2 linked regions of the Homo sapiens genome follow. The protein of the gene in region 1 purifies or fractionates together with the protein of each later gene. This does not show direct contact. Each region holds a gene or a part of one and is shown in the gene's direction. Other genes may lie near its edges.

Region 1 (3,748 bases):
AAATAGGTAATCCAGACAAGGTACTGGAATTTGTAGTTGTTGCAGAGAATCAAATTGTGAGAGTATTTGATCTGACCCCCTCGATTGGCATGAAGAAACTGAGGTCTGGAGAGACAAAATTACTTTCCCAAGGCCAAATGGCAAGTCAGAGGCAGTATATCTACGCTCTCCTTTTCTTATGCAATGAATGAGCTGGGTGGCATTTTCCCTTTCCTGTTCTTGTACTGACATTTCTGGGAATATGTGAAACATAAGGCAAGTACTTATACCCCAAAATTATATCAAGAAGATTACTGAATAAAAAAGTGGCTATATAGCACACACATACTAAATGTGAAGCTCACAGCTTTTGCAGCCAGGACTGAAAACCACTGCTCTAGCATGTTGCCTTCTTAAGTGAATGCCCAGGGCTTCTATAGTTGGGCAAATATGCTCCCTGTCTCCTGGCTTAGCTCATTCCAGGGCTATAGAACATCCTTTCCCAAGGGAGTGGATTCACACTGCTTCCATAGTCTGAGATCCTGAAGTGAGCCTTCCCCATCTGCCACAACAGAAAGTAAAAGTAGAACCTGTTCCAACTATTCTCAGTCTGTTCAACAAACAATTATTGAGCACTTGACAATTGTGTATATGGTGCAGTGATAATTGAATGGATGGTCCAGAGGGGGTCAAGACAGAGCAGCTGCCACCTGGAGATGTTCATGATATGGACTTTTCCAAGAGGAAGAGACCAACTGGAAAGATGTACCTGATTCTTAGGCTTCTGTTTGGGTCTTTTTTTTTTTTTTTTTTTTGCCTTTTGAAGGGGTGCAGCATTCCTGGAGGTACTGCAATACCAGGTCAACATGTAGAGTGAACAGAGCAAGCTCTTATTCCATCTCCCTGCTCCCAAAATCCATTTAATATGTTGTCCTCAGATGGAGGACGTATCAGATATTAAGACGATAAGAACAGATACCACACTTGATCTTAGCCAAAAGGCTGAGAAGTGATGCTGCCTATGTCTTGAGTTCATTCTCTCCCCACTGATATTATTTTCTTCCCCTTGGCAGGAAGATGATGTCTGTTAGGAAGCCTCTGAGGTTCCTGTTCCTTTCTGCTGGATTTATGCCGCTGCCAGCATCGGAGCAGTTTCTACCACCCACACATTTCCTTGTTAAATAGCCAGGCCTCTTCCCATGGGGAATGCTTTCATTAAAAGAGGCAGCCACTGCTGCACAGACCTGCAGGCTTCTCAGGGCTAGAGCAGGCGGGGGTGCAGTGGGCAAAGCCAGTGGAGGCACAGGCTGGGTTGTGGCAGTCTCCTGGAGGGCCTGCCCTAGTAATGAGGGCCCAGGCATGCGGCTGACCCTTTGAAGATGTGTCCTGAAGCTCTCTCATGGTGATCAATGACAGGAACCCAGACTCCTGCTTTAGCCAAATGATAAGTTTGGCCTCTTTTATTGGAAACCAAATTACAAATTAATTAGCAGCTTCCTCTGGGGCTGGGTGTGAACATCAACACCACCCAATGATGAATTTCTATCATGAGCCCCCTCACTGCAAGGGCATAAAATGGCCCGGGCGGCATGGGGTCTGTAGACATCCAGGTAGCTGTGGCTGAGGAGAAAGGGCCTCTCCAACATGACATCCTCCTGCTGTGTCACCAACAACTTGCAAGCCTCTCTCAAGAGCTGCCCCCGGCCTGCCTCGGTCTGTTCCAGCGGCGTGAACTGCCGGCCTGAGCTGTGCCTGGGCTATGTCTGCCAGCCCATGGCATGCCTGCCTTCGGTCTGCCTGCCCACCACCTTCCGGCCAGCCAGCTGCCTCTCCAAAACCTATCTATCCAGTTCCTGCCAGGCAGCCAGTGGCATCTCCGGCTCCATGGGCCCCGGCAGCTGGTACAGCGAAGGGGCCTTCAATGGCAATGAGAAGGAAACCATGCAGTTCCTTAACGACCGCCTGGCCAGCTACCTGACGAGGGTGCGGCAGCTGGAGCAGGAGAATGCGGAGCTGGAGAGCAGGATCCAAGAGGCCTCTCACTCCCAGGTGCTCACCATGACTCCTGACTACCAGTCTCATTTCAGGACCATTGAGGAGCTCCAGCAGAAGGTGAGGGCAGCGGTGAGGTGAATAGGCTCTCTGGGAAGGGAACTGGACTAGCTGGCATTCCAGATTGGAATCTCGTTAGCTTATTAAGCTATGTTCAGGACAAAGAGACTTCCCTAGGGCATAGGGTTATTTTATAATTTGAGCACTCAGCCTGAGGCTTTCATGTGGAGAGATCTGGGATCTAGTCTCAGTTCTACCATTGCCTCATTGCATGACTTTGGGGGTCCCATCCCTTCCCCAGGCCTCAGTTTTCTCATCTGTAAAACAGGGATAATAATGGTCGTTATCTAATGGGGTTGTCAAAAGGATTTGATGAGATGATGCAGGTCAAGTGCTTGGAACAGCCCCTGGTCCACGGTAAGTTTTCAGTAAATGTCAAAGACCCTTCTAACTGTCACATGAGTGACTTCAGACATGAGATTCTTCCCTTCCACATTGCTTGGCACATCCAAAATGGGGAATTTGAATTTACGAAGCTTCAGGTTCTTAAAAAATACATCTCAAGTTCTCCAAGGACTAGCAATTCGCTAAATATCTCCCAGAGTTCCAGGGAAGAGGACCTTCTGCAGGGATGGCTGCAGGGCTGCTGGATCCTACCTTTGCTGCTGTCTTCTCTTCATTTGGGTTCTTCTTGCTTCGTCTCATCCTGAACTAACCCTCTCCATGTGCCTTGGCCTACAGATTCTGTGTACCAAGGCAGAGAATGCCAGGATGGTTGTGAACATTGATAATGCCAAACTGGCTGCCGATGACTTCAGGGCCAAGTGAGTTCAGTCGGGGGGCTGGAGCTGGGGAGGACCTGTCCTCATAGGCTCTGGGGCAACTTTCCATTAGTTTCACGGAGGGTTGGAAAGTGCCGGCAGTTTAAGGCCTTCCCTGAGTTCTGCATTCTGTTTCACCCTTGGTTGCTGACCCTGTCCTTGTGCAGGTACGAGGCAGAGCTGGCCATGCGGCAGCTGGTGGAGGCCGACATCAATGGCCTGCGCAGGATCCTGGATGATCTCACTCTGTGCAAGGCTGACCTGGAGGCCCAGGTTGAGTCCCTGAAGGAGGAGCTGATGTGCCTCAAAAAGAACCATGAGGAGGTGAGGCTGGAAGTCCCGCTGAAGTGGCCCCGGGAAGCAGAGGGGGAGGAACGTGGGGTATGGGGTTGGATAGGCGTGGGTTGAAATTCCCAAGCCTGCCACATGTTGTTTTAGTGACTTTGCCCAATTTATGGAATCTTCCTGAGCCTCCTCTTCTGTAAAATGGGGACAACATGATCACGCAGGGTTATTGTGAGGATTTAATGGACAGGATATGGATCATGGAAATCCCCAAGGCATGGGTATGAAACACCTGCCACTTGGTCAACTCTCAGAAGTGTAGCCCCCTTCCCTTCTGCATTTCCTGGGCTAGTGTGACTGCCAAGCACTCACTAGTGGCAACTGCATTTTTTTCTCTCGAGAGCCACACAGCAGAGGTAGAGTGGTGCAGTGGTGCCGGGGTGAGTTATGTTCCAGATCTCACGTTGAATGGCCTGTCCATCTCTGCCTGGCTCAACTCTCAGAAGCAGTCCCATCTCTTCTGAGAGGGAGTACAGCTGCAGTGGTCTCCTCTTTTTGCCCCTATCCTTATTTTGTCCTCCCTTCTGTTTGCATATAAAATGCTCAAGCTG
Region 2 (3,648 bases), on another chromosome or scaffold:
CTCTGTGTCAGGCCTGGGCGGATGTGGAAGATGGGGGCCTCTCTCAATGCTGATCTGCAGGTGAGGGGGCCCTCCCTGAAACCTGCTTTCTCTGGGCCTCCTTGGAATGGGCCTTGGTGGAGATCTACAGACAGCCCTGGCCCAGCCGGATTGAAGGCACTGTCTAATTGGGAGGGCATTAAGATCGTTATAATTAATTGGCATCCCGATAAATGGCATGGTTGCCTAATTGGGGTGGTTGCTAGGGAACGAGGCCTCACTTGGAGCCTAAAGGGGAAGAAGCGCTGGGCTGGCCACAGTTGGGTGTCAGGGTACAGATCCAGCAGTGAATGGACCGGAAGGGAGAGCAGTCCATCCGTATCTGCTGGTGTTTACTGAGCAGCTGCTGTGTGCAAGTTGCAAATGGAGTATCAGTTAGGGGTACTTGCCTAGAAGAACTGTAAAGTAATCAGGTTCCTTTCTCTTGCAAGCAACGGAAAAAGAGAAGAAAAAAACTCAAGCCAGCTTAAGGAGAAAAGAAGTGGACTTACTGGTTTTCATAACCAAAAGTCTTAAGGTGACTAACTCTAGCTTCAGACACAGCTGGACCCACAGCTCAGATTTTGTAATGAGAATCCATTCCTATCCACCGCTCCTCTGCCTTCCATGAGGCTGATGTCTCTCCAGCTCTGGGGCGGGCAGTCCCTGGCAGCTGTGGGCACCGTGGCTAGGAGAGCCAGACTGCCTGGCTCCCTGCCCAGCAGTGGGATCTGGGGCATGCTACTTAACCTTTCTGTGCCTTGATGTTCACATCCAACAAATGATGATGATCATAGCACCTGTCTCCTGCTTGTGGTAAGCATGAAATGAGATGATCAATGTCAAGTGCTTAGCAGGGCGTCTGACCCAGGTGAGCCTTCAGTAGGCATTGACTGTTACCATAACTTAGGTGTCAGGACAGATGTCATGGAGCAGAGGGGTCTCATCCCCTCTGGTTTAAGCCCAAAAGGAAAGAACAAGCCTCTGATCTGGCAATGCACACCTGAGCCCCATGGTTCCCTCTGATTGGACTGTTTTTTGTCCAAACCAGTCACTGGCTAAGGAAATGAGTTGCCAACAATTGGCTTAAGCCAGGCTCACAGGCCTCTCCCTGGAGCTGGATGGAGGCTGACTGCTGAGACCCCAAAGCCTGGAATAAAACAGCACGGGGAGTCCCCAGTGAAAGGGAAGCCCGGTTGCTGGAGAGGCAGATGGCCAGTGCCTGCGATGATGGGCCACTAATGTGAGCAATGCTGGCCAGATGGACCCATCTTCATTTTGGCCAAGGTGGAGACTGGGGAAACACGCTGCCTGGGCAATGCCTCTCCCTTCCACCAGGGCCAGGAGGCATCAAAGGCCTGACTTTTCTGCCTTACTGTCTGAAGGATGGGGCCTGGCCTTGATCCTGTGCTTTCGGGGGGCCAGGGGCAGTGTTTGTCTAACCTCCCACCATGAGAATCATCTGGCTGTATTTGTTTAAAAAGGCAAAGACCAGATCCTGTTGAATCAAACTTCTAGGGAGGGTCCTGGATGCTGGGGGGCATGACCAATATGTCATGTGTATATTCTATATCAGCAGGAGGGTTTGGCGAAGAGAGCTCTGGAGCGTGGGCCTCTTTGTCTTCCTGCCTAATGCAGGGGCTGTCAGAAGGCGGGGAAAATGCTCTAGGCCTGGCGTGCTGGCTCATGCCTATAATCCCAGCACTTTGAGAGGCCGAGGTGGGAGGATCCCTTGAGGTCAGGAGTTTGAGACCAGCCTGGCCAACATGGCAAAACCCTCTCTCTACTAAAAATACAAAAATTAGCCAGGTGTGATGGTGCTTGCCTGTAATTCCAGCTACACAGGAGGCTGAGGCACCAGAATCGCTTGAACCCAGGAGTCGGAGGTTGCAGTGAGCTGAGATCGCACTACTGCACTCCAGCCTGGGCAACAAAGTGAGACTCAGTCTCAAAAAAAAATTTAAAAGAAAAATGACTGCATGATGTGATGGGGTGGGAGGCAACTTTAGGCAGGCTGTCAGGGAGGCCTCTGTGAGGATGTGACCTTTGAACTGTGACCTAGATTTTAGGAAGGAGTCCGCCTTGGAAAGATCTGGGGGAAGAGCATGCCAGGTAGAAGGAACAGCTAGTGCAAAGGCCCAGAGGCGGTGGGAGGGGCCTGTCCAAGACACCTGCCCCAAACACAAATAGAAGTCAAGTGGGGTAGGCCAGGCGTGGTGGCTCACGCCTGAAATCTCAGCACTTTGGGAGGCTGAGGCAGTTAGATCACTGGAGGTCAGGAGTTCAAGACCAGCCTGACCAACACGGTGAAACCTCATCTCTGCTAAAAATACAAACATTAGCCAGGTGTGGTGGCACGTGCCTGTAGTCCCAGCTATTTGGGAGGCTGAGACAGGAGAATCACTTGAACCCGGGAGGCAGGGGTTGCTGTGAGCCGGGATCACACTTCTGCATTCCAGCCTGGGCAACAGAGTCAGACTCTGTCTCAAAAAAAAAAAAAAAAAAAGTCAACTAGGGTAGAGGGTCAGGAGTAAGTGGGGGAGGGCACGTCAGAGATGAGAAATACAGGCCATGCTAAGAAATTTTAGACTTTATTTTAAATAAAATGGATAACTGTCTGGACGCGGTGGCTTATGCCTGTAATCGCAACACTTTGGGAGGCCAAGGCGGGTGGATCACCTGAGGTCAGGAGTTCAAGACTAGCCTGGCCAACATGGTGAAACCCCATCTCTACTAAAAATACAAAAATTAGCCAGGCACGGTGGCGCACACCTGTAATCCCAGTTACTCGGGAGGCTGCAGCAGGAGAATCGTTTGAACCCAGGAGGTGGAGGTTGCAGTGAGCTGAGATTGTGCCATTGCACTCTAGCCTGAGTGACAGAGCAAGACTCCATCTCAAAAATAAATTAAAAAATAAAATGGAGAACCATTGGAGGGTTTTAAGTCAGAGAATGATATGATTTGTGTTTCAAGAAGATCCTGCTGGCTCCTGTGAGAGGCGTGCTGTGCAGATGGAAGTGGTATCACCGGGACTGTTAGGCAACAGAGAGGGCCCGAGAGTGGCTTGGACCGTGGTGGTATCAATGGAGATGGAGTGAAATGGGGATTGGAGATGTATTTTGGAGGTAGGGCCCACAGGACTTCCTAGTGGATTGGATTACAGAGTGAGGGAAAGGGCTTTGATTCTCAACCGAGGGTGATTTTGACACCCAGAAAACATTTTAACACTATCCGGAGACAGTATAGGTTGTCCCAACTGGGGAAGGGTTGCTACTGGCATCTAGAGGGTAGAGGCCAGGGATGCTGCTTAACCTGCAATGTACGGGATGACCCCACAGTGAAAAATGATTCAGCCCAAATATTCATGATGTATCCTGCCAAGGAGTCAAAGGTGACTAGGCAGCCTGGTGCGTGGTGATTGCTAAATAGGGAAGATAGGAGAGAAGGTTTTGGGGAGGAGGAGTGATCTGGAATTCCGACGTGGAAATGTTGGGTTTGAGATGAACCCCACCTGGATGTCTGAAAGCTCAGTGGGTGGTGAACGTGGATGTCTGCAGCCGGTCGGGGCTGGCAACCTAAGTTTGGGAGTTATCGGCATATTGATGTTATTTTAAGCTGTGGGACTGGACA

The links. The genes of interacting proteins can lie anywhere in the genome.
Region 2: the proteins of KRT32 (region 1) and SULF2 purify together in Homo sapiens (co-immunoprecipitation; one large-scale study listed by IntAct). This does not show direct contact.

The regions. Positions count from the first base shown.
Region 1 is NC_000017.11:41,465,201-41,468,948, reverse strand, and holds the start of KRT32 (keratin, type I cuticular Ha2), read left to right. Parts: upstream 1-1,562; 5' UTR 1,563-1,623; coding exon 1,624-2,091; intron 2,092-2,772; coding exon 2,773-2,855; intron 2,856-3,019; coding exon 3,020-3,176; exon of another isoform or gene 3,177-3,748.
Region 2 is NC_000020.11:47,778,892-47,782,539, reverse strand, and holds part of SULF2 (extracellular sulfatase Sulf-2 isoform a precursor), read left to right. Parts: intron 1-2,885; exon of another isoform or gene 2,886-3,648. UniProt on the Homo sapiens protein: Exhibits arylsulfatase activity and highly specific endoglucosamine-6-sulfatase activity. It can remove sulfate from the C-6 position of glucosamine within specific subregions of intact heparin.